Regions from separate parts of the Homo sapiens genome. Here all the other regions are linked to region 1. The links come from fine-mapping of genetic effects on gene expression. A gene starts in region 1. Each other region holds a variant in brackets. All regions are shown on one strand. Distances are from middle to middle.

The links. PIP is the estimated chance that this variant, and not a neighbour inherited with it, causes the effect.
Region 2: its variant is the best candidate, but not a certain one, in a credible set for the expression of TKT in whole blood (TOPMed, PIP 0.51).
Region 3: its variant is the best candidate, but not a certain one, in a credible set for the expression of TKT in whole blood (INTERVAL, PIP 0.79).

What each region holds. Positions count from the first base shown.
Region 1 is chr3:53,252,463-53,260,776 of GRCh38, reverse strand. It overlaps TKT (transketolase), which reads left to right and starts at 4,755. Exons shown (of 14, transcript NM_001064.4): 1 at 4,755-4,941. The coding sequence starts at 4,835. RefSeq lists silencers at 1,910-2,204, 4,469-5,158 and an enhancer at 1,910-2,204.
Region 2 is chr3:53,322,569-53,330,882 of GRCh38, reverse strand. The region is part of intron 3 of DCP1A (decapping mRNA 1A); the gene reads left to right. LOC124909380 (a long non-coding RNA gene) reads right to left here and starts at 7,718. Exons shown (of 2, transcript XR_007095912.1): 1 at 7,642-7,718; 2 at 4,049-4,176. The variant G/T (reference allele first, on the strand shown) is at 3,892.
Region 3 is chr3:53,470,680-53,478,993 of GRCh38, reverse strand. It overlaps the pseudogene RPS25P4. Among named protein-coding and RNA genes, the nearest start is that of CACNA1D, 20 kb to the left of the region's middle. RefSeq lists a silencer at 1-172 and an enhancer at 5,274-5,777. The variant G/A (reference allele first, on the strand shown) is at 4,982.

The sequences.
Region 1 (8,314 bases):
GATCACTTGAGCCCAGGAGTTCAAAACTAGCCTGGGCAACATAGCATGAGACCTTATCTCTTAACAACAACAAACGTGAGAGGGTGTGTGAGCATTGTCTGTGAGTGTCAGTGTGTGTGTGTGCCAAACAGTTCCTGCAATCTGGGATTCGTCATGCCCGGCCCAAGTGCAGCCCCCTCTGGGTCCCCAAAGTACAGGGGACATGAAGAGGTGGGACATGACTTCCTGACACTGCCAGTCTCTTATGCAAGGTGCCCCTGCCCAGTATGGCTAGACCGGTCCTGGCATTTCAGGCTGAAGGGCAATTCAGAACTCTCTGCTTCACATTCCACTCTAGGCAGCCAGTACAATCCATCAGCACTGCCTTGGTGATCAAAGCCATTGCCCAGGAACAATACTGGGTGGCATGGCACCCCTCAGGACCCCAACCCCCCTCAGGTCCCTTTTAGTGATACTGGAGATCCCTGGGGAGTGGCTGTGGGGGACTCTTACGTGGGGACTCACACTGTTCTGGCTCCTCTAAGGGTGACCTTCTCCCTAGTGCTGCACGGGTCCTGGGGGACAGCTCAGATTCCAGAATGTGGCTCTGCTCTCAGGTCACTGTGGCCTCTGCTGGCACCTGATGCCGGCAGTAGGACATTTCTGCCACTTCCTACCCTCCAACAGAGCACCTTTGTGTCTCGGTTTCTGGAAAGGCCGGAATGAAGGACACCAGTCTGAATGGCCAGATTCCCTCCCCTGAGGCCTCCCTGATGCCCTCTTGGCTTGGGTGCAGCCCTGGCACTTGCTGACTCTGTGTCCTCAGGCACATCACTTGACATTCATGCTTTCATTCTGCAGGCATTCATTGAGCCCCTATTGTATATGAGACCCAGTTGTAGTCCCTGCGGATAGAGCCAGGGACAAGAGATTGTATTCCGGCTCTCCGGGAGCTGACCAAAGATCATGCAGATAGGCAGAGAGCCCTGCAGAGACCAAGACAGGCAGTGTGATGGGCAGCATGGCTCTAGATCCAGGCCATGTGAGGAGCCTCAGGAAGGGCTCTGCTGGCTCAGGGAGCAGCCTGTGCAAAACCTCTAGGAGGGAGTGGGCTTGGTATTTTTTAAGGAATGCGAGGTCAGTGTGGCTGAGATGGGTAGGGCTGGGGGACCTGAATTATATCCAAAGGGTGGAGGAAGAACAACATGGGAGTTAAGCTGGGGAGGAACACTTCTCTGGCAGCCATGGGGAGGGTGAACAGGAGGCTGAGAGAGGATGGGGTGTGAGGGCAGCAGGGAGCCAGATGTTAGCTGGAAGCCAGACAGGATCCCAGGGCTTTCTTCCAAGTGCCATGTGACTTCTGAGGCGTGAGGGTTCGAATAAAGACCCTGGGACCTGGGGACAAGGGAACCACCCTGGACAAACTGGGTGCTAGCAACACCTCCAGCTAGCCTAGGATTCTGGTTCTGAAGCTGACCTTCAGGAAGACCAAGAGCTCTTGAAATAAGGCTGAACCCTTGGGCCCTGTGAAAGGGAAAACACTCAAACTCTGTTTTTCCTCTGTTCTCACACCACAACAATTAACACAAAAGACTCCTGTGATCAAATGTGTGGGGGTTTCTCCCCATGCACCAAGCAAGCAACCAATTCTGCAGCAACACCAGCTGGGTGTCCTCCAACTCTATTCCATTCTGATGCTAATTACCTGGAGATAGCCTCAGAAACCACAGGTTAAGGATTCAGTCCCCCAAGAGCACCTCCTCCTTCCCATGAGTCGCAAGATTGGGACTGACCAGCTTCAAGTTGGGGTTCCCACCACTCCCTCTTTGGGTTCAATTAATTTGCTAGCGCAGCTCTCAAAACTCAGGAAAGCACATTTATCGGTTAGTTACAAAGGATATTTTAAAGGAGACAAAGAAACAGTTAGGCAAAGAGATACATAGGCGGAGGCCTGGAAAGGTCCCTAGTGAAGGAGCCATTGTCTCCATGGAGCTGGAATGTTCCACCCTCCCAGCACGTGGATGAGTTCTTGTTCACCTTCCTGTGAGCCTCCACGTGTTCCGCTGTCCAGAAGCTCCTGAACCCTGTCCTCTTGAGCCTTTCATGGACATTTCATTGGACAGACATGATTGACAACCTTGTGGAAATGTGATTAGACCAAAAGTATATGATCTAATACTAACTGACTGAGTGGGGAAACCCCGCAAGACCTGTGTGTCCTGACTCTTCTTGACCTCTCTGTGAAGCTCACTGTCTGGTAAAAGGGCAGACTCTTGAAACCTTTTGAAAACTCTGTGCCATCCAACTCTGTGGCCCTTAGGACAGTGGCTCCCTAAGGGAGTGGCCTCAATTTCCCCATCTGCCTAACGGGACTCATCCTTATCACTCTGCACCCACTCTGGTCTTCCCTCCTCATGGGTATGGGACAGAACCCCTTCTCATGGGGGTCTAATGACCTACAATTACACGAGGTAGGTGAGAGAACTTACTTATGGCCAGCTCCAAGACAGACCGGCAGGAGAAGATCCTGCCATGGGGAGAGAAAGGAGCAGGTGAAAGGAAGGTAGGAGAAGGCCTGAGAGACTCTGTTTCTGGGGTCTGCTCCTGAGGTCTAAAGCACCCCAGTGGTATAACAAGGGTTGGGGGCAGTTCTAAGCCAGGGGCCTGTATATGCATATCATAGTATCACAGGCCCCATTCATGTGGAACACCAGGAGGAGAGAGAGCCTCCCTGAGGTCCCTGGAGCTCCAGGTGGTGGGGAGGGGACAATTTTCTTTCCATTACTCCTAGGTCCCCAGAGCCATGGTGAGTTCTGTGCCATTGTCAGAGACCAGAGTGATAAGGATGAGTCCCATTAGGCAGATGGGGAAATGGAGTCCACTCCCTTAGGGAGCCACTGCTCTAAGGGCCACAGAGTTGGAAGGCACAGAGCTTTCAAAGGGTTTCAAGGGTTTGCCCTTTTTCCAGACAGTGAGCAGCTTGAGGGCAGAGGTGGCACCTGCCAGGCATCTGAGGGTGGCACACTGTGGGGCCCCCCTCCAATCCTAGCCCATAGCCCTCACCAGCCAGACACCATAGGGCCAGCCTCTGCGGGCTGGGCCAGCAGGAGCCAGGTGCTATGGGATGCCATACTTAGGGTCTGATTGGGCATCTGGGGGTCAGGCCAGCAGAGGAGCACCTGGAGGCGAGCTGGGGGACTCACTCAAATTCAGTCAATCGCCTCATGAGCCAGAGCTCTCTGAGTATGGGCAATGCAGGGAGGACACAGAGGACACAGGGCGGCCACTGGTGCCTCTTGGATCTCTCAGGGTTTTAGCTCCCTGCCCAGCCATCCGTTTGAGGGTCTTGCCTTTATCTTTCCTCTGTCAAATGGAGCTTCTTCCTCTGTAAAATAGGCATTGTAGGCAGTATGTACCTCACTGGCCAAGTGTGGTGGGCAGATTGAATGAAACAGTGTCTGTGATGAAAGTCCCCTCCCTAATCCCACTCTGGGGAGCTTCATACCTCTGGGAACCATGGGGTCTGATAACAGTAGTGGTGGGTGCCCCTGTCCCTACAGACCTGGAAGCAAACCCAATAATCTCCCTAAAAGTCAGTAGTGTTTCTAGGCCCTAATAATTTGTAAAGGATCTTCCCCTAGTAATTTCTCAGTTATCATCACCTGGCATTGTCATGGCTACCACTATCCTATTCTCATTTTCAATAATCCCCATCCCCTGTGCAGGGCTCTAAAGCCCTGAGTGGCTGGGCATGGTGGCTCATACCTATAATCCGGCACTTTGGGAGGCAGAGGAGGGCAGATGGCTTGAGCCTAGGAGTTCAAGACCTGCCTGGGTAAAGTGGCAAAACCCCATCTCTACAAAACATACAAAAATTAGCCGGGCGTGGTAGTGTGTACCTATGGTCCCAGCTACTTTTGAGGCTGAGGCAGAAGGATCACTTGAGCCCAGGAGGCTGAGGCTTCAGGCAGCTGTAATCACTCCACTGCATTCCAGCCTGGGTGACCATGGGTGACCCCGTCTCAAAGAAAAAACAAGTTTTTTAATTATTAGAAAAAAGAAATAGGGCCTGGTGCGGTGGCTCACCCCTGTAACCCCAGCACTTTGGGAGGCCGAGGCGGATCACCTGAGGTCGGGAGTTCAAGATCAGCCTGACCAACATGGAGAAACCCCGTCTCTACTAAAAATACAAAATTAGCTAGGTGTGGTGGCGCATGCTTGTAATCCCAGCTACTAGGGAGGCTGAGGCAGGAGAATTGCTTGAACTCAGGAGGCGGAGGTTGTGGTGAGCCAAGATCATGCCATTGCACTCCAGCCTGGGCAACAACAGCGAAACTCAGTCTCAAAATTAAGTCCTGCAGTCTCTTGGGCCTGGGGTTGGTCGGCTGGGGCCAAGCCTGGCACCCACCAGCCTTGTGACCTTGATTGCCCTTGCCAAGCCTCAGTTTGTCCATCTCTAAAATGGGATTCGCCGTGACAAGTCCACGGAGGACTGTGTGGAGGAGGGAGACTGAGAGGCTTTCGAGTCAGGAGCCCAGACTCGAATCCTGAGTTGTTCGTTATGTTATTATTATTGGTGTGTGTGGTTAACTGCTAACCTCGCAGTCCGCAGCGGCCCAGCGCCTAGGGGAGGGGAGCGGGCAGGAGGCGGCCCCAGGCGGGGCGGGGCTGAAGGCCTGGGGTGATCCGAGCCCCGCCTCCTCCCCCTGCCCCGCCTCTCCCATCCCCGCCCCGCCCCGCCCGGCGACTTAACGCGCCCCCGCCCCGCGCCCGGCCTCGGCAGCCGCCTGTCGCCGCGGGAGCAGCCGCTATCTCTGTGTGTCCGCGTGTGCGCCCGGTCCCCGCCTGCCGCACCATGGAGAGCTACCACAAGCCTGACCAGCAGAAGCTGCAGGCCTTGAAGGACACGGCCAACCGCCTACGTATCAGCTCCATCCAGGCCACCACTGCGGCGGGCTCTGGGTGAGTGCGCGGCGCCGGCCGGGGACGCGGCTCGGGCGGGGCGGGGGGCGTCTGCGGCGGCCAGAGTCGCCGCGGGCTCTGGGTCGCGCTGCGAGATGCCTAGACGAGGAAGGTGGCCCGGGCGCCGTCGGAGGGCGGAGACGCGCGCCTCGCAGGGCCCCGGGCTGCAGGCGGCTTCCGCTGCGCCGCACACTCGCCCTACGCCCGGGCTCGGCCGCGTGGGCCTCTGGTCCTCCGTGCGCCTCAGGCCGGCTCTTCCCCACGCGGATCGCCGGCCGCGCAGCTGCATGGTGGCGCGGGGGATGGGCTCGCGACTCGCCAAGTACCCTCTAGGGTGATGCCGGGAAGGCCACCATTACTGCTGTTCTACAGAACGCGGCCCTCTTAACCCTCTCCACCACCTGGCTGTGTGGGCGCCGCCGGGAGTGTTCCCCCTTCCAGATGGGGAAACGGAGGCTCCGAGTTAGTCAGCTACCCAAAGTTACACACAGGGAGATCTGATTTGAGCCCCAGCAGTCCGACTCTAGAGACCCTGTTTTTAATTCCTCTTGCAGGAGACTCGGGGGCCCGGCCTTCTCCCCACCTCAGACTACGCTCCCCTACCCCTGTCTCCTGCCACCCCTGGGTTGGGTCCGAGTTTGGAGCAGGGGGCTGCTGAGACGCCAGGCAGCGGCGGGGCTGATTGGGGGAAGAGGGGAGGAGGGCGGTGGCACGTGGGTGCAGAACCCTGGGATCCATTGTGAAAAGGAGGTCTAAGATTTGACCTGGGGCGGGAGGAGGCGGAGGGCAAGGAGACTGAGAAGGCTGAGCGCCGGAAGGACGGAGTTCCAGGGCCCTAGCGCCGGGAGTGACGTCCTGGGGCAGGGCCAGCCACCAGGTGCTGTATCTCCCAGGCAGGAGCTGGCGTGCCTAGGCCCCAAGATCCTTCCCTGGCCAGCCCTTTTGGCCCAGAAGGTGGACACCCAAGGAGCCTCCTCTGTAGCGGAGACAGGGATAATTAATGAGGGCCACCGTGCATGCAGCTGGAGGTGTCCAGTGGGGTGGGTGAGGGGGTCAGTCAGTGAATTACTTCAGAGCCTGCTTCCCGCTCTGTAAAGCGGGGACAGTAATGGCACTTAACCACGCTGGGTGGTTTCAAGGACTCCAGTGCTCTACTTGGAGGCTGCTTTGAGGCCACAGTGCCAGCAGTGCTCCGGGCTCATGACAGGGTTGTGAGGGCTGCGTGATGGATGATTTCTCGGGACCTTCCCAAACAAGCTCTGTTTCAGACAGACAAGATTCTGGCTTCTGGCCAATTTCATTCAGGATATATTATTAAGAAGTAAATCTGTTCACCTTTCTGGGTGGATACGCATTCACCCTTTGTGCCTCTAAGACACCCTGTTCTCAGAAGGGATTAGATGTCTTTCAAAGCCCTTCCCCCACCCACTGCCTTGCACACTTTGGACCTGTTAGCTCTCCTGGGTTTGTGTCAGTCTTACCACTTATGTGGGGTATCCCCTGCCTGGGCAGGGACCTGGCTTACTCTCAGCTCCCCTTTCACCAGCCTGGCACACGGTAGCTCTGCAGGCCTTGTATTGCTTATTTGGTACTGTTGGACCTGCTACCTTTGGCCGTTTCAGGGGGTCTGAGGTCTAGCTGGAGAGAGGCAGCAATTACCCAACTAAGTAGTATTGCACATCTGAGCATCTTTCAGGGCTAGATAAAACATGCAGATGTTTACAGGGTTCCTGAGCTGCCAAGTAGGTATCTGGTATGACACAGCATCATCGTTTGTTGCATCCTGAGAATAACCCTGTGAGATAGATTGTGTTGTATTCACATTTTATAGACGGGAACACTGAGGCTAGTGTGTTAAGTTACTTGCCCAGGCTGGGAATTGGTGGCCATTCCGTACTGTCTGGTTGGGGCTCATGCTGTCAGGAATGCTTCTTGGCAGGGCATGGTGGTTCATGCCTGTAATCACAGCACTTTGGGAGGCCAAGGTGGGAGGATTGCTTGAGCCCAGGAGTTCCAGACCAACCTGGGCAACACAGTGAGACCCCATAGCTTAAAAAAAAAATTTTTTTTTTGAGATGGAGTCTTGCTCTATCGCCCAGGCTAGAGTGCAGCAGCACAATCTTGGCTCACTGCAACCTCTGCCTCCCAGGTTCAACTGATTCTCCTGCCCTAGCCTCCTGAGTAGCTGGGACTACAGGCATCCGCCACCGCACCGGCTAATTTTTGTATTTTTAGTAGAGATGGGGTTTCACCATCTTGGCCAGGCTGGTCTCTTGACCTCAGGTGATCCACCCACCTCGGCCTCCCGAAGTGCTGGGATTACGAGTGTGAACCACTGCCCCCGGCCAAACATTTTTTTTAATTGGCTAGGTGTGGTGATGTGTACCTGTAGTCCCAGCTACATGGGAGGCTGAGGCAGAGGATCACTTGAGCCCAGGAAGTTGAGGCTGTAGTGAGCCTTGAACATGCCACACACTGCAGCATGGGTGACAGAGTGAGACTGTGTCTCAAAAGAAAGAAAGAGAGAGAGAGAGAAAGAAAGAAAGGCCAAGAAAAGAAAAATAGTTGGGCATGGTGTTACATGTATGCCAGCACTTTGGGAGGCCAAGGCAGAAGGTTCGCTTGAGGCCAGGAGTTCAAGACCAGCCTGGGTAACATTAGCAAGACCCTGTCTCCAAAAATAAATAATGTTTCGGCCAGGCGCAGTGACTCATCCCTTTAATCCCAGCACTTTGGGAGGTGTAGGCGAGTGGATCACCTGAAGGTCAGGAGATCGAGACCAGCTTGGCCAACATGGTGAAACCCTGTCCCTACTAAAAATACAAAAAATTAGCTGGACGTGGTGGCGGGCGCCTGTAATCCCAGCTACTCAGGAGGCTGAGGCAGGAGAATCACTTGAACCCGGGAGGCAGAAGTTGCGGTGAGCTGAGATTGCACCATTGCACTCTGGCCTGGGCAACAAAATTGAAACTTCTTCTCAAAAAAAAAAAAGAATGCCTCTTGGGCAAGCAGTCTGTGCCAGGCTGGAGAATGGTGAAAAAGGTGAAAGGGAAGGCCAGGTACAGCCGCGGTGGATATTAGTCAGTCTGAAAGGCACTTGGAGAGAAATAAGATTTACAAATGTAGGGTGCTCCAAAAGAGTGGAATGTCAAGTGTGTCTCCTAGTTCTTTGTTAGGCAAAGTCTGATTTCCTCACCGCCGTTACCCCTCCGGAAACATACTGTGGTGTCCGAGAGTTACACCATGTTTACATTGTAATGTCTTGGAGAGGGAAGCTCACTGAACTCAAAAAATATCCATTTGCAAAAGAAAAAAAGGATATGTAAAATACAGTGACTGTGTGTGTGTATGTATATGTTTAAAATATGCAAAA
Region 2 (8,314 bases), 70 kb before region 1:
CATCTCAAAAAAAAAAAAAAAAAAATTACATATACTCCATCTCAAAAAAAAAAAAAATATATATATATGTGTATATATTGTGTTTTACCTTGTTTTTAACCAACGTGATTAACTCGGATACATACCTTAATTCAGTGACATTTATTGAATATGTCATTTGCCAAGCACTTTACCAGCTGCTATACCATATAGATTAAAACTACTGTGCGCTTATAAAGAATTTTGTTTATATTTTTAGTCCTTAGGTTCTATTATATTTTCTTAGAAAATTATAAGCTGAAGTTACTAAACTGCGTTAGAACTTTCTATGTCAAAACTCTGCCTTCTTGGTAAGGGTGAAGATTCTTTTTTTTTTTTTTCTGAGACAAGGTCTCACTCTGTTGCCCAGGCTATAGTGTCCAAATGATCCTCCATCCTCAGCCACTGCCCTGAGTAGCTAGGACTATAGGTGTGAGCTACTACACCAGCTAAATTTTTTTCTTTTAAATAGAGATAGGGTCTCTGCAAATTTTTTGTAGTGATAGGGTCTTGCTGTGTTGACCAACCTGGTCTCCAACTCCTGGCCTCAAGCGATCTTCCCACCTCAGCCTCCCAAAGTGCTAGGATTACACTATAGCCACTGCACCCCGCTGGGTCAGGATTCTTAATGAAATGTGCTACTACAGTAAGCCCAAAGCTATGCATGTTTATTCTTAAAACAACTCCCTGTAGATTAATGATAAAAATTAATGATTTAAGGTCTGTGATTTGAGAGTTATTGCTTGTAAATTTGAATGACTGGGCTAGTAACAGTGACAGTCTGATCTACCAGAGAGACAGTAAGGGTATGTACATATTTTTTCTTGGTCATTTTCAGCAGCAGTACTCACCCATTGTTGGGAAAGAGTATATGGTCTTGATTTTCTCTTCTCAGACCTAACCTTATTCTCACCATAGACCAGTGTGTAATGGTAGTTTTAACCAAAAACAATGATTGTTTTACTTTATGTGCATGTTAGATACGGCATCTTTTTACTGGAAGTTTATCATTTATAAGGACAACTTTTTCATGTTTCCTTCATGTAACACCCTAAGGCATGTATCTCCCACTTAATGCCACTTTTTGTATTTTTTAATGTTTTCTGTAAAACCAAAAGCAGTTTTGGGAAAATGGACAAAGCCCTTTTGAGTTTTTCAAAAGAACACAGACATTTCCCGAATTTTATTTTACCTTGACAGGTTTAAACAATTACAAGTTTGTGGTTTGTATGAAACACTTTCAAAGTGATCCTATGTGAGTAAAATCTGATCTGAAATTTTCTTAAAAAGGAGTTAATGTCATATATCTACTAGTCTAATATGTTGCTCTTTAGCTTGCTTAACCGAAAAAGACAATTACCTCTTAAGTATAATTTAAAATGTTAAATATTATTGCTATTTAATATTTTTAAGAACTTACCTCCAAAAGCCAGAGAGAAGTACCCCTTCGTTTCTGCTTCACTTATCACTTTTCCTTTATATCGGGCATCGATCTCTTGATACATAGTGCTTTTAATGAAAATTAGATCACTAGAAAAAGTAGGGAGGTTCATTTCCATAGTGTTGAAAATGCCACTGCCAAATGGAAAGTTTTAGTAGAAGAAATGCTGTAGTGTGTGCTTTTTTTGTCTCTCTGCTTGTCCTTTCTCAGTTCAAGGGCAAGTCTCAGAACAGTAGAGATGGTAGGTGGCTGTTGGCATTTGGAGCAAATCTTCAGACTTTTAAAGCACAGCGCAAGAAATTTCCTTACAAGATAAGTTTACAATTTGTCCAATCCAAAAATGTGAGTTCTCCCTCCACACTGAAAGAGGAATTCATAAACAACAAGAAAATTTCCGTGATTCATTCTTTGATATCTTTGAATTCAGTGCAGTACTTCTTTCTTAGCCTGAAGAAAGGCAGTCTTCCACCATCAGTTGCGGCACCGCTGTGCTTGGTATGATTCTGTAATCAGTGAAGGAGAAAGGGTCTGTGGCAACTGCATTAGTCTGGCCTTCTGGACCAAGATAAGGAAAGAGCCTTGCTGTTGCCACATTTGTAGATTGAAGAGGTAAAATCACCACGAAAACATAGAGGGACTTAAGGCTCAGTGGCTGAGTCTGACTCAGTGACACTGTTAGTTCAAATGTTTTAAAAATACATATATTGCTTTCTGGCTCATTGTAGGCGCTGCTTAGTATTCTGGTAGAGCCTTTACCAAGTGCCTTCTTGGTAACTTTGTAAATCCATGAACATTTCAGAATTTCCAAAGCAGATTCTTTTCATTATGATTCACTAATTACTGGCTTTTTCCTCCTCAGGTAGTGTTGTCAGATAAAAGCACTTTTTATCTTTTTTTTTTTATTGTGGTGTTATCTAAATTGTAAAGATTTGTAAAGTTAACCATGCCTGTATCATTTATCTTTTAGATAATTATGTTAAATATTCAATACTTCAAATGTTTTTTCTTTTGAGAACTCACAAAGGAAATCATTGTTTGTACTTAAGTGACAGAAATATGTTAACATGTAATATGTAGGTTTTCACCTTCTGTTTACACAATGAAGTTATCTGTGTAGGTAAAAATTGAAACAGAGTAACCGCTAGTCTAAGCGAAGCTCCTCTGGAGTGTGCAGAATAAACCTCCAGACTGGGCCCTTCAGGTTCAGTGTGCTGGAGGATCCAGGCAGGTCTGAGTCACTTACAAAGTCACTGCTTCCAGGCATGCTCAGCTTCTGCTTTTTCTTTTCTTTTTTTTTTTTCCTGAGACGGAGTTTTGCTCTTGTCACCCAGGCTGGAGTACAGTGGCGCAATCTCGGCTCACTGCAACCTCCACCACCCAGGTTCAAGTGATTCTTCTGCCTCAGCCTCCTGAGCTGGGATTACAGGCACACGCCACCATGCCCGGCTAATTTTTGTATTGTTAGTAGAAATGGGATTTCACCATGTTGGCCAGGCTGGTCTTGAACTCCTGACTTCAGGTGATCCACCTGCCTCGGCCTCCCAAAGTGCTGGGATTACAGACGTGAGCCACCACGCCCGGCCTTTGTTTTTGTTGTTGTTGTTTTTTTGTTGTTGTTTTGTTTTGTTTTTTTGAGGTGGAATCTTGCTCTGTTGCCCAGACTGGAGTGCACTGGCACAATCTCAGCTCACCGCAACCTCTGCCTCCCAGGCTCAAGCAATTCTTCTGCCTCGGCCTCACCAGTAGCTGGGATTACAGGCACATGCCACCATGCCTGGCTAATTTTTTGTATTTTTAGTAGAGATGGGGTTTTACTATGTTGGCCAGGCTGGTCTTGAACTCCTGGCCTCAAGTGATCCACCCACCTTGGCCTCCCAAAGTGCTGGGATTACAAGCGTGAGCCACCGCACCCGGCCAGCTTTTTCTTTTTAATAAAAGGAAAGCACAGGCTAAGCATTTGCTACCAACATTTAAAAATTACCATATTTTATACATCCTTAACCTGGATTTCTGATTTTTCTTGTGATAAAATGACGTGTGTGACCACACAGCACTTGGATTCCTGCAAGTACTGCAGTCAGCCAGAATTGTAGGTAAGACATTTTCATCACTGATCTCACCACACCCTGAGGTCTCTTATAGTCCGTGAGGTATTTGTGCTTACAACCCTGCTGTGGATGATCGATTAGTAAATTGGTAGAAAAATGTGTAGGAGAGTAGAAGTTAGGGAAAGTAGAGAAAAGAAGTTCCCCCCCTTTTTTACACCCCATCTGACCTATTTCCCAGATCCCTAACTATAGATTTTTGGAAGCCTAGGAAATGGGAATTCAAATCCATGGAGGTCAGGGGCCATGCTTCCCCCTGCCTTTGTCTCTCCCTTATGATACATAAAGATGATATTTGTGTGGGATACTAGAGCGACTAGAATACCA[G/T]TTGGGGGGGGGGGGTTGGACATGTCCAACATTTGGCAGAACCGTAATCATTTACACCAGCATTCCCCAACCTTTTTGGCACCAGGGACCGGCTTTGTGGAAGACCATTTTTCAATGGACGGGGATTGGGGGATTGTTTCAGGATGATTCAAACACATTACATTTATTGTGTACTTTATTTCTATAGGTGTTGTAATAAATAATGAAATAATTATGCAACTCACCATCATGTAGAATCAGTGGGAGCCTGGAGCTTGTTTTCCTGCATCTAAACAGCAGTTCCATCTGGAGGTGATGGAAGACAATGACAGATCATCAGGCATTAGATTCTCATAAGGAGCCACAATCTAGATCCCTCGTATGTGCAGTTCACAGTAGGGCTGGAGCTCCTATGAGAATCTATTGCCACAGCTGATCTGACAAGAAGCAGAGCTCAGGCAGTAATGCTCTGTTGTCTGCCACTCACCTTCTGCTGTGCAGCCTGGTTCCTAACAGGCCACAGACCAGTACCAATCCGTGACCCTGAGGTTGGGGACCCCTGATTTACACCACACTTTGGAAGCTGTATTTTAAGGAGCTATGGGTACTGTGTGGCAGTAGCAGATATACATCCTAACAGCAAAGGCAAAACCCTAGTGCAATTCACTGTTTTACTTAGGGTTGCCCATTGTTTAAGAATAAAACTTTTGCAAGTGGGAGTAATCAGTTGTGATATTGTTGGGTTTATTTTCCTAATTCCTAAAGAAGTTCAATGGTCATTTCATGTGTCTAAATTCTGTACTGAGATTATAATGTTAATGGGATTGTGGAAGGAGTATTTCGGGTTAATATATTCAGATTTGATTTAATTTAGACAGAGGCACCAAATTTTTAAATGATAAACTGAAGACCTTGAAGAGTAGCATTTTAAAATTACCTGTCCTAAGTCTTTTAATCATTGTTCAATATTCAATAAGTAGATATTACAATTTAAATTTTAGAAGTTGGACTCTTTCTCTACCATATTAGTGTTCAGTGGTGGTCTGAAATGAGTGGGTTTTTTGGCCAAAAGGGTTAAGCTGCAAAGATAATTGAATGACATTTTCCAGAGTTTCTTGCGGATATACAACATCTCATCTACCTAAGTGTTTGTAACATGCCAAAATCTGTTATGATCCCACGTCAGTCAGTCTTAGGCTCCATATCCTTTTTCCTGTGTGTGTGTTTTCTGCCCCTCTATCCTAGAGCCTTTCTTGTCTTCTCACTCTTTCCTAACCCTTTGATGTTCTTAGAGAGCCTCCATGCTTATTCTTGTCTTAAAGGAAATGATCTGCTGAGGCAGAGGTATTTGCCTTTTCACTTGCCAGGCCTGACTTATGTTTATATACCTATTCCATTTTTCTATATAAAAAATGTATTTGTCTATACCCAAAGCCCGTTTTCTTGTTTTTGTTTCCTGGTGTAAGAGATCTTTGTCAGTATCATCTTTAGAAATTGCATAACTTTTTTTCTCTTTATTTATTTTCTCAAGCACAGAGTTTCAGGAAAAAGAAATTTTATAACTCTTAACATCACCACCAAAAAGCTTTTTATTAAACCACCTTTTTGCTTGGCACCATACTGAGAAAATCTCCAGCCTCCTCAGATCCTTCTAGAAAGTAGGTTAGATCTAAATAATAAATGAATCACAAAGACAACATATGTATGAGAGTGATTCCCAGCTCTGTTTCTGTGACATTTCACAGCATCTCTAGAAGTCTCAAGGGATTTTACGAAGATACCAAATTAATTTGGCTTTTCTTGATCTTGTGTGAGCCATGTACCTCTCTCAAGATGAGAAACAGTGAAATATTTTATATGAAATCATAATAGGTTGCTATATCTTTAAACGGGTCTAAGGAAATAGAAAACTCTTACTCAAAACTCCACTTCTTAAAATTTCTCAATACAAAATAGTTCAAATACCTTTAATTTTTGTAATTTGTATTTTTTTTTACATTTTCAAAAGAAAGGGGCCTTCATTTGAAAAGCAAAGGAAACATTTAATGTTTGATATTCTTAGATGGATCTGGATATTTTTTGTGGAAGGCAATGAAATGTCCTATCACACCTCCTAACTTTTTTCTTTTTTTTTTTTAGTTAACAAATTTTTAAAAAATAAACAAGGTCCCACTGTGTTGCCCAGGCTGGTCTTGAACTCCTGGGCTCAAGTGAACCTCCTGCCTCAGCCTCCCAAAGTGTTGGGATTAGAGGCATGAGCCACCACACCCAGCCAACTTTTCAATGACTTGTCTATCCTATGCAACATGACTGACTTAGGATAGCTGTTAGCAGTCACAATGTGTGGTAGGTATCCATTAAGTAAGTAGTTTCTTTCATCTTGAGAAAGGCCATTTGTAAAACAGTGTGCCATCATTTGCCATAGCAAGGCAATACTGTATTGCCAAAAGCCTGAATTCTCTGTAGGATAGTTAATCAGAGAAATTTATTTCAGCAAGTGAATTGTTGGCAGAATGTGTTGGGCCTTAGAGTGTAAGTTCTCTAGAGGGAAGAATGCTTAGCTTTGGTTTAAAGGGGAGGTCCTCTGCAGTTTTAGCTATCTGGTGAACTTGTCTGTCTTTCCTCATGAGTGACAGTGACAGGCTCCGTGGCAGCTCCCTGGGCTTTCTTGCCAGTTGCACGCACTGACCGTTTGATATGTTGGCAGACAGAGCTGATTCTTGGATGCGTGTCTGAACCTCTACAGGTCTGCTTTTGGCAGAATCGAGTGTGACTCTTATCCCTTACCCATTAAGCTATCATTATGGCTTTCTTATCTTTATTTCTTCTGCAAACATGCCTTTGAAAGTGTTTGGCTCTTTTTAGGCAGTTTGATAATATACAAAAGCAGAAGGCATGTGTCTTATTTCTAAATTATATTGTATTTTTTCAAAGGAAAAGAGGACATCTTAAATGAAGGTTTTTCAAAATAAGTTGACAGCTTTGATGGACTTACTTTGATTATTGATAAGTAGTTCTTTCCTAAGAGTTCGGTTTAGAAGTCCCTGTGAAAATACACTTAATTGCTTCTGTTTAGCACAGAAAAAATTGTGTGTTCCTCTCTAAGCCTGATGTGTTGCATATCATAAACTTTTTTTTTTTTTTTTTTTTTGAGACAGAGTCTTGTTCTGTCACCCAGACTGGAGTGCAGTGGTGCGATCTCGGCTCACTGCAACCTCTGCCTCCCGGGTTTAAGCAATTCCCCTTCCTTAGCCTCCCGAGTAGCTGGGATTATAAACATGCATCACCACGCCCAGCTAATTTTTGTATTTTTAGTAGAGACGGGATTTCACCATGTTGGCCAGGCTGGTCTCCTCACCTCAGGTGATCCACCCACCTCAGCCTCCCAAAATTCTGGGATTACAGGCATGAGCCACTGCACCCGGCCGCATATCATAAACTTTTCTTATCACTGTGTATTGTTTTGGTATGTCCAGATTAATATAGCTTATTGAAGGAAAACGAATTTTTGTATTTGGACTTCAGTGTTTGGGGTGTTCATTAGCCAAGCTTGGAAGAAGCATATTTCAAGAAAGGTAGTCCTATGTAATTGCCATATATGGAGTCTTTTTAAAGCCCTGATCTGATTTACTGTAGTTAGAGCAAGCCTTAGCCGCTAAGAGCGTAACTAAGAACCTGCAGTAGATAATGCTTAATAATTATCTCTGTAACAAGGCTGCTTCTGTGCTCCTTCCATTGAGATGTTAAAGCTGAGTGAATTTGTTGACTTACCATGATGTAAAACATTCCAAAATTACTTGTTATTCATTGGAGTTTGATTCTGTTTGGAGCACTCAACTCTGTGAAGAAAAGAGGCACTGTGAAAATGGATTCCAAACATGGGAAACTCGGCCGGGCGCGGTGGCTCACGCCTGTAATCCCAGCACTTTGGGAGGCCGAGGTGGGCGGATCACGAGGTCAGGAGATCGAGACCATACTGGCTAACATGGTTAAACCCCATCTCTACTAAAAATACAAAAAGTTAGCCGGGTGTGGTGACGGGCGCCTGTAATCCCCGGGCGCCTGTAATCCCAGCTACTCGGGCGGCTGAGGAGAATGGCGTGAACACGGGAGGCAGAGCTTGCAATGAGCCAAGATCGTGCCACTGCACTCCAGCCTGGGTGACAGTGAGACTCCATCTCTCAAAAAAAAAAAAAAAAGCAAACAAACAAACAAACATGGGAAACTCTTCCCAGCTGGTTGAAGGCTCAGAGACTAGTGAGCCTGGACTTCCTTCAGGTAGTGCACCACTTGTGGGACACATGGCCATACACGGGCTCCATAGATTTAGAGCAGTTTTAGTGTAATTAGAGGTTTTTCCCTGCCTGAGAAGCCCTTTGTAAACAGGGTAGGAAAAAAAATTCTTGTTCATGATCTTCATTCATTAAAATGAAGCCGTTCACTT
Region 3 (8,314 bases), 220 kb before region 1:
TGTCATGACTGTCTCCACCCCTGGGGCAGTGAGGTTAGGAGAGAAGGGCAAGATGTAGCAGTGGCAGGACAGCCTTCAGCAGACTCAGTGCCAGATTGTCCTATATCCCGTTTCTACCCCAAGAACTGTGCTCACTCAGGGGGCAACAAAGACTTCTTTTTTAAAATTACCCTTCTTCTTAAGACAAACTTCTCTAACCCTTCATAGTAATAATTTATTTTTATAATGGGTTTTCATCTCCATGCAACCCTTTAAGCCTCTGAGGTAGGTCAGGGAAAATATTAACACTTCCAGTTCATAAAGGAGTAAACTAGATTCATTATGCTGGGATGTGAGTTTGCCAAGGTTATGCAACTAGTAAATGGTTAAGCCAGAACTGCAGATCAGCTGTCAAAGATCACTGATGCAACAGCAGATAAAAGCCATTTCAAACAGGACAAGTATACTACTCCACCTCCTGCTTCTTAATGCTATTCCCTGAAGAAAAAAGATCCCTTTGTTCTGACAAGTGTGTGGAGAGCAGACTATGCCCTAAAGGCTAATTAAAAAACAGAGGTTCCCACATCCACCCTCCATCCTGGGATTGGACTGGCAGAGACTACACAGAAACACAGACATTTCCAGACAACACAAGGCTATCTATGTGCTCCACTGCATCTAGGCACTGGGGAGTTCCTAGGTCCATGAGAAAGCTGAGAAAGCTACTGGCTAAGGAAGAGAACCCCTGGGTGCTGCTCTGAACAGACGTCATGCAGTGTGGCCATGAACCCAGATCACCTGACTCATTGTCAAGATGAACAGGGCTCTGGCAGGTCAGATCTGCCACTGGATATGTGAAGGGATTCTTTCCCATTATTTTTCTTTTTTCTTTTCTTTTCTTTTTTTTTTTTTTTTTTTTTTTTTTGAGACAGGGTCTCATTCTGTTGCCCAGGCTGGAGTGCAGTGGCAAAATCATAGCTCACTGCAACCTCAAACTCCCAGGCTCAAGTGATCCTCCCACCTCAGCCTCCCATGTAGCTAGGACTCCAGCCACACACTACCACTCCCAGTATTTTTTGTGTGTGTTTTTTTTTTTGTAGAGACAGGGTCTCCTTATATTGCCCAGGCTGGTCTTGGACTCCTGGCCTCAAGTGGTCCTCCTGCCTGGGCCTCCCAAAGTATTAGGATTACAGGTATAAGCCACCACACCTGGCCTCACATTATTTTCCTCAGAAAGATCTGAAATAGGAGAAAACTTTGAAAATTAACGTATTTTCCTTCTCTTGAACTTTAAAGCTGCCACAGCCCTCACCCTCAATTGTAAAGGCTTGAGGATGTTTTCCGGAAACTATGGAGAGTAGTTTAAATTTTCAACCCTTTAAAAAGTTGAAAGCTATCCTTTCAACACTGCCTGTGAACAAGTTTTCATTTTTCTTTCAGTAGAATCTACAAATCACTAAAAAAAATATAGAGGGCATTTCCCCAAGCAATATAGAGGGCAATAAAAAGGATTCCCTATTTAATAAATGGTGTTGGGAAAACTGGCTAGCCATATGCAGAAAGCTGACACTGGACCCCTTCCTTACACCTTATAAAAAAATTAACTCAAGATGGATTAAAGACTTAAACATAAGACCTAAAACCATAAAAACCCTAGAAGAAAACCTAGACAATACCATTCAGGACATAGGCATGGGCAAAGACTTCATGACTAAAACAACAAAAGCAATGGCAACAAAAGCCAAAATTGACAAATGGGATCTAATCAAACTCAAGAGCTTCTGCACAGCAAAAGAAACTGTCATCAGAGTAAACAGGTAACCTACAGAATGGGAGAAAATTTTTGCAATCTACCCATCTGACAAAGGGCTAACATCCAGAATCTATAAAGAACTTAAACAAATTTAAAAGACAAAAACAAACAACCCCATCAAAAAGTGGGTGAAGGATATGAACAGACACTTCTCAAAAGAAGACATTTATGCAGCCAACAAACATATGGAAAAAAGCTCATCATCACTGGTCATTAGAGAAATGCAAATCAAAACCACAATGAGATACCATCTCACGGCCAGTTACAATGGCGATCATTAAAAAGTCAGGAAGCAACAGGTGCTGGAGAGGATGTGGAGAAATACGAATGCTTTTACACTGTTGGTGGGAGTGAAAATTAGTTCAACCATTGTGGAAGACAGTGTGGTGATTCCTCAAGGATCTAGAACTAGAAATACCATTTGACCCAGCAATCCCATTACCGGGTATATATCCAAAGGATTATAAATTATTCTACTACAAATACACATGCACACATGTTTATTGCAGCACTGTTCATAATAGAACATAAAGACTTGGAACCAACCCAAATCCCCATCAATGATAAACTGGATAAAGAAAATGTGGCACATATACACCATGGAATACTATGCAGCCATAAAAAAGGATGTCCTTTGCAGGGACATGGATGGAGCTGGAAACCATCATTCTCAGCAAACTAACACAGGAACAGAAAACCAAACACCGCATGTTCTCACTCATAAGTGGGAGTTGAACAATGAGAACACATGGACACAGGGGGAAGGGGATCACATACCGGGGCCTGCCAGGGAGTGGGGGGCTCAGGGAGGGATAGCATTAGGAGAAATACCTAATGTAGATGACAGGTTGATGGGTGCAGCAAACCAACATGGCATGTGTATACCTATGTAACAAACCTGCACGTTCTGCACATGTACCCTAGAACTTAAAATATTAAAAAAAATTATTTTAACCCCAAAAGTAACCACTAAAAATATGCAAAGAGCTATAGCTAAAAATTAAAATGAAATACTAAACCATATTAATTCCCAAAAAAGGCAAGAAAAGTGGAACCAAGAAACAAGTCATATCAGAAAAATAGAAAACAAATAAAAGTGAGAGAACTAAATCCAACCATATCAATAATTATCTTAAATGTAGATTGACTAAATGCTATAAGAAAAAGAAATAGATTGTTTATAGTAGATAAAAGTTATGATCCAACTATATGTTATCTACAAGAGATACATTAAATACAAAGACACATATAGGTTTAAAACTTAAAAATTTTAAAAGAAATATCATGCAAGCACTAATCATAGGAAATATGGAATGGCTAGATTAATATCAGTCAAAATAGACTTCAGGATAAGAAAGATTACCAAAAATAAAGAACAATATTTCGTAATGATAAAAGGGTCATTTCATCAAAAGGCATAGCAATTATAAATGTGTGTTTAATAACAGCTTCAAAATGCATAAAGCAAAAACTGAAAGAGCTAAAGGGAGAAATAAACAAATCCACAATCATAGTTAGAGATGTTAACACCCCTCTCTCAGTAATTGACAAAACAACTAGATTATTAAAAATCAAAAATGATGTAGAATATCTCAACAATGCTATCAATCACCTTAACCTAATTGACATTTATAGAACACTAGGCCAGATGTGGTGGCTCATGCCTATAATCCCAGAGTTTTCAGAGGCCAAGGTAGGAGGATCACTTAAGGCCAGGAGCTGGAGACCAGCATGGGCAACATATCAAGACCCCATCTCTATTAAAAAATTAGCTGGGCATAGTGGAACATACCTGTAGTCCCATCTATTTGGGAGGCTGAGCACACCACTGCACTCCAGCCTGAGTGACAGAGCAAGACTGTCTCTAAAAAAACTAGAACAAATAAATAAATAAAATAGAACACTAAACTCAACAACCACAGAATATACATTGTTTTCTAACCACGCTGAAATTAAATTAGAAATCAATAACAAAAAGATATCTATTACAGCCCCCCAAATATTTGAAAATTAAACAACACATTTTCAAATAACCTGTGCATCAAAGAAATCACTTTTCGTCTGACATCTCAGCAAGGCTGCAGCGATTGCCGCTGCTCTGCAAGCTTCACAATGCCATCCGAGGACAACAAGAGGAAAGACCCCGGGAAGTTGGCCAAAAAAGACAAAAACCCAGTGAACAAATCCAGGGGCAAAGCCAAAAAGGAGTGGTCCAAAGGCAAAATTTGGGATAAGCTCAATAACCAAGTCTTGTTTGACAATGCTACTGTAAGGAAGCTTTGTATGACAAACTCTGTAAGGAAGTTTCCAGCTATAGGTTTATAACCCCAGCTGTGGTCTCTCAGAGATTGGAGATTCGAGGCTCCCTGGCCAGGGCAGCCCTACAGGAGCTCCTTGGCAAAGGACTTATCAAACTGGTTTCAAAACACAGAGCTCGAGTCATTTACACCAGAAATACCAAAAGTGGAGATGCCACAACTGCTGGTGAAGATGCATGAACAGGTCCAACTGACTGTACATTTGGAAAAACAAAACTTTATTAAATAAAAAAAAGAAATCACAGGGAAATTAGAAAATATTTTTGAACTGAATGAAATTAAAACATATCAAATTTTATGGGATGCAGCACTGCAGTGCCTAGAGGGAAATTTTTAGTGTCTATTGCTTATATTAGGAAAGAAGAAAGATTTAAAATCAATTATTTTAAGTTTCTATTTTAAGAAGTTAAAAAAAGAAGAGCAAATTAAACCCAAAATCTGTGAACGGAGAGAAATCATAAATATAAAGCAGAAATCAAGAAACTAGAAAACAAAGAGTATACAAAAATAACAAATCCAAACGTTGGTTTTTGAAACATTTAATGGAATCAGTAAACTCCTGGTTAGGATGATCAAGAAGAAAGGAAAACAAAAGCTGTTACTACTACAAATGAAAGAAAGGATAGATCCTACAAATATTAAAAGGCTAACACTGAAATAGTATGAAGTGTATTATGGCAAAAAATTAACACCTTAGATTAAAGGAAACAAATTTCTAAAAGAACAAACTTACTAAAACTGACCTAAAATCATATTGAAATTTTTAATACCCTGTATGTTTTTTAAAAATGAAAGTATTATGAGACTTTCCAAGATGGCCGAATAGGAACAGCTTCAGTCTGCAACTCCCAGCGTGATCGACACAGAAGAT[G/A]GGTGATTTCTACGTTTCCAACTGAGGTACCTGGTTCATCTCATTGGGACTGGTTGGACAGTGGGTGCAGCCCATGGAGGACAAGCTGAAGCAGGGCAGGCATCGCCTCACCTGGGAAGCACAAGGGGTCAGGGATTTCCCTTTCCTAGCCAAGAGACGCTGTGACACACTACTTGGAAAAATGGGACACTCCCACCCAAAGACTGTGGACTTTTCCCAAGGTCTTAGGAACCAGCAGACAAGGTGATTCTCTTCCTTGCCTGGCTCGGTGGCTGCCACCCATGGAGCCTTGCTCACTGCTAGCCCAGCAATCTGAGATCAAACTGTGAGGCAGCAGCCTGGCTGGGGGAGGGGCGTCTGCCATTGCTGAGGCCAGTAGGTAAACAAAGTGGCCAGGAAGCTTGAACTGAGTGGGGTCCACCACAGCTCAATCAGGCCTACTGGCTCTAGACTCCACCTCTGTGGGCAGGGCATAGCTGAACAAAAGGCAGCAGACAACTTCTGCAGACTTAAATATCCCTGTCTGACAGCTCAGAAGAGAGCAGTGGTTCTCTCTCACCAGCACAGTGTTTTAGCTCTGAGAACAGACAGACTGCCTCCTCAAGTGGGTCCCTGACCCCTGTGTAGCCTAACTGGGAGACACCTCCCAGTAGGGGCCAACAGACACCTCATATAGGTGGCTGTCCCTCTGGGATGAAGCTTCCAGAGGAAGGATCAGGCAGCAATATTTGCTGTTCTGCAGCCTCCACTGGTGATACCCAGGCATGCAGGGTCTGGAGTGGAACTCCAGCAAACTCCAACAGACCTGCAGCTGAGGGACCTGACTGTTAGAAGGAAAACTAACCAACAGAAAGAAACAGCATCAACATCAACAAAAAGGACATCTATACCAAAACCCCATCTGTAGGTCACCAACATCAAAGACCAACGGTAGATAAAACCACAAAGATGGGGAGAAACTGGAGCAGAAAAGCTGAAAATTCTAAAAACCAGAGTGCCTGTTCTCCTCCAAAGGACTGCAGCTCCTCACCAGCAATGGAACAAAGCTGGATAAAGAATGACTTTGACGAGTTGACAGAAGTAGGCTTCAGCAAGTCAGTAGTAACAAACTTCTCCAAGCTGAAGGAGGAGGTTTGAACCCATCACAAGGGAGCTAAAAACCTTGAAAAACAATTAGATGAATGGCTAACTAGAAAAAGGGTGTAGAGAAGACCTTAAATGACTTGATGGAGCTGAAAACCATGGCACAAGAACTTTGTGACACATGCACAAGCTTCAATAGCCGATTCGATCAAGTGGAAGAAAGGGTATCAGTGATTGAAGATCAAATGAATGAAATGAAGCAAGAAGAGAAGTTTAGAGAAAAAAGAGTAAAAAGAAACGAACAAAGCCTCCAAGAAATATGGGACTATGTGAAAAGACCAAGTCTATGTTTGATTGGTGTACCTGAAAGTGATGGGGAGAAGGGACCCAAGTTGGAAAACATTCAGGATATTATCCAGGAGAACTTCCCCAACATAGTAAGGCAGGTAAACATTCAAATTCAGGAAATACAGAGAACACCACAAAGATACTCCTCCAGAAGAACAACCCCAAGACACATAATTGTCAGATTCGCCAAGGTTGAAATGAAGGAAAAAGTGTTAAGGGCAGCCAGAGAGAAAGGTCGAGTTACCCACAAAGGGAAGCCCATCAGACTAACAGCAGATCTCTCAGCAGAAACCCTACAGCCAGGAGAGAGTGGGGGCCAATATTCAGCATTCTTAAAGAAAAGAATTTTCAACCCAGAATTTCATATCCAGCCAAACTAAGCTTCATAAGTGAAGGAGAAATAAAATCCTTTACAGACAAGCAAATGCTGAGAGATTTTGTCACCACCAGGCCTGCCTTACAAGAGCTCCTGAAGGAAGCACTAAACATGGAAAGGAACAACCAGTACCAGCCACTGCAAAAACATGCCAAATTGTAAACACCATCGATGCTACGAAGAAACCTCATCAATTAATGGGCAAAATAACCAGCAAACATCATAATGACAGGATCAAATTCACACACAACAATATTAACCTTAAATGTAAATGGGCTAAATGCCCCAATTAAAAGACACAGACCGGCAAATTGGATGAGGAGTCAAGACCCATCAGTGTGCTGTATTCAGGAGACCCATCTCACATGCAAAGATGCACATAGGCTCAAAATAAAGGGATGGAGGAAGAACTACCAAGCAAATGGAAAGCAAAAAAAAGCAGGGGTTGTAATCCTAGTCTCTGATAAAACAGACTTTAAACCAACAAAAATGAAAAGAGACAAAGAAGGCCATTACATAACGGTAAAGGGATCAATTCAACAAGAAGAGCTAACTATCCTAAATACATATGCACCCAATACAGGAGCACCCAGATTCATAAAGCAAGTCCTTAGAGACCTACAAAGAGACTTAGACTCCCACACAATAATAACAGGAGACTTTAACACCCCTCTGTCAATATTAGACAGATCAATGAGACAGAAGGTTAACAGGGATATCCAAGACCTGAACTCAGCTCTGCAACAAACAGACCTAATAGACATCTACAGAACTCTTCACCCCAAATCAACAGAATACACTTTCTTCTCAGCACCACATCGCACTTATTCTAAAATTGACCACATAATTGGAAGTAAAGCACTCCTCAGCAAATGTAAAAGAACGGAAATCACAACAAACTCTCTCTCAGACCACAGTGCAATCAAATTAGAACTCAGGATTAAGAAACTCACTCAAAAATGCACATCTACATGGAAACTGAACAACTTGCTCCTGAATGACTACTGGGTAAATAATGAAATAAAGGCAGAAATAAAGATGTTCTTTGAAACCAATGAGAACAAAGACACAACATACCAAAATCTCTGGGACACATTTAAAGCAGTGTGTACAGGGAAATTTATAGCACTAAATGCTCACAAGAGAGGGCAGGAAAGATCTAAAATCAACACCCTAACATCACAATTAAAAGAACTAGAGAAGCAAGAGCAATCAAATTCAAAAGCTAGCAGAAGACAAGAAATAACTAAGATCAGAGCAGAACTGAAAGAGATAGAGACACAATCAATTGATTCAAAAAATCAATGAATCTAGGAGCTGGCTTTTTGCAAAGATCAACAGAATTGATAGACCGCTAGCAAGACTAATAAAGAAGAAAAGAGAGAAGAATCAAACAGAGGCAATAAAAAATGATAAAGGGGACATCACCACCGATCCCAAAGAAATACAAACTACCATCAGAGAATAATATAAACACCTCTACGCAAATAAACTAGAAAATCTAGAAGAAATGGATAAATTCCTCG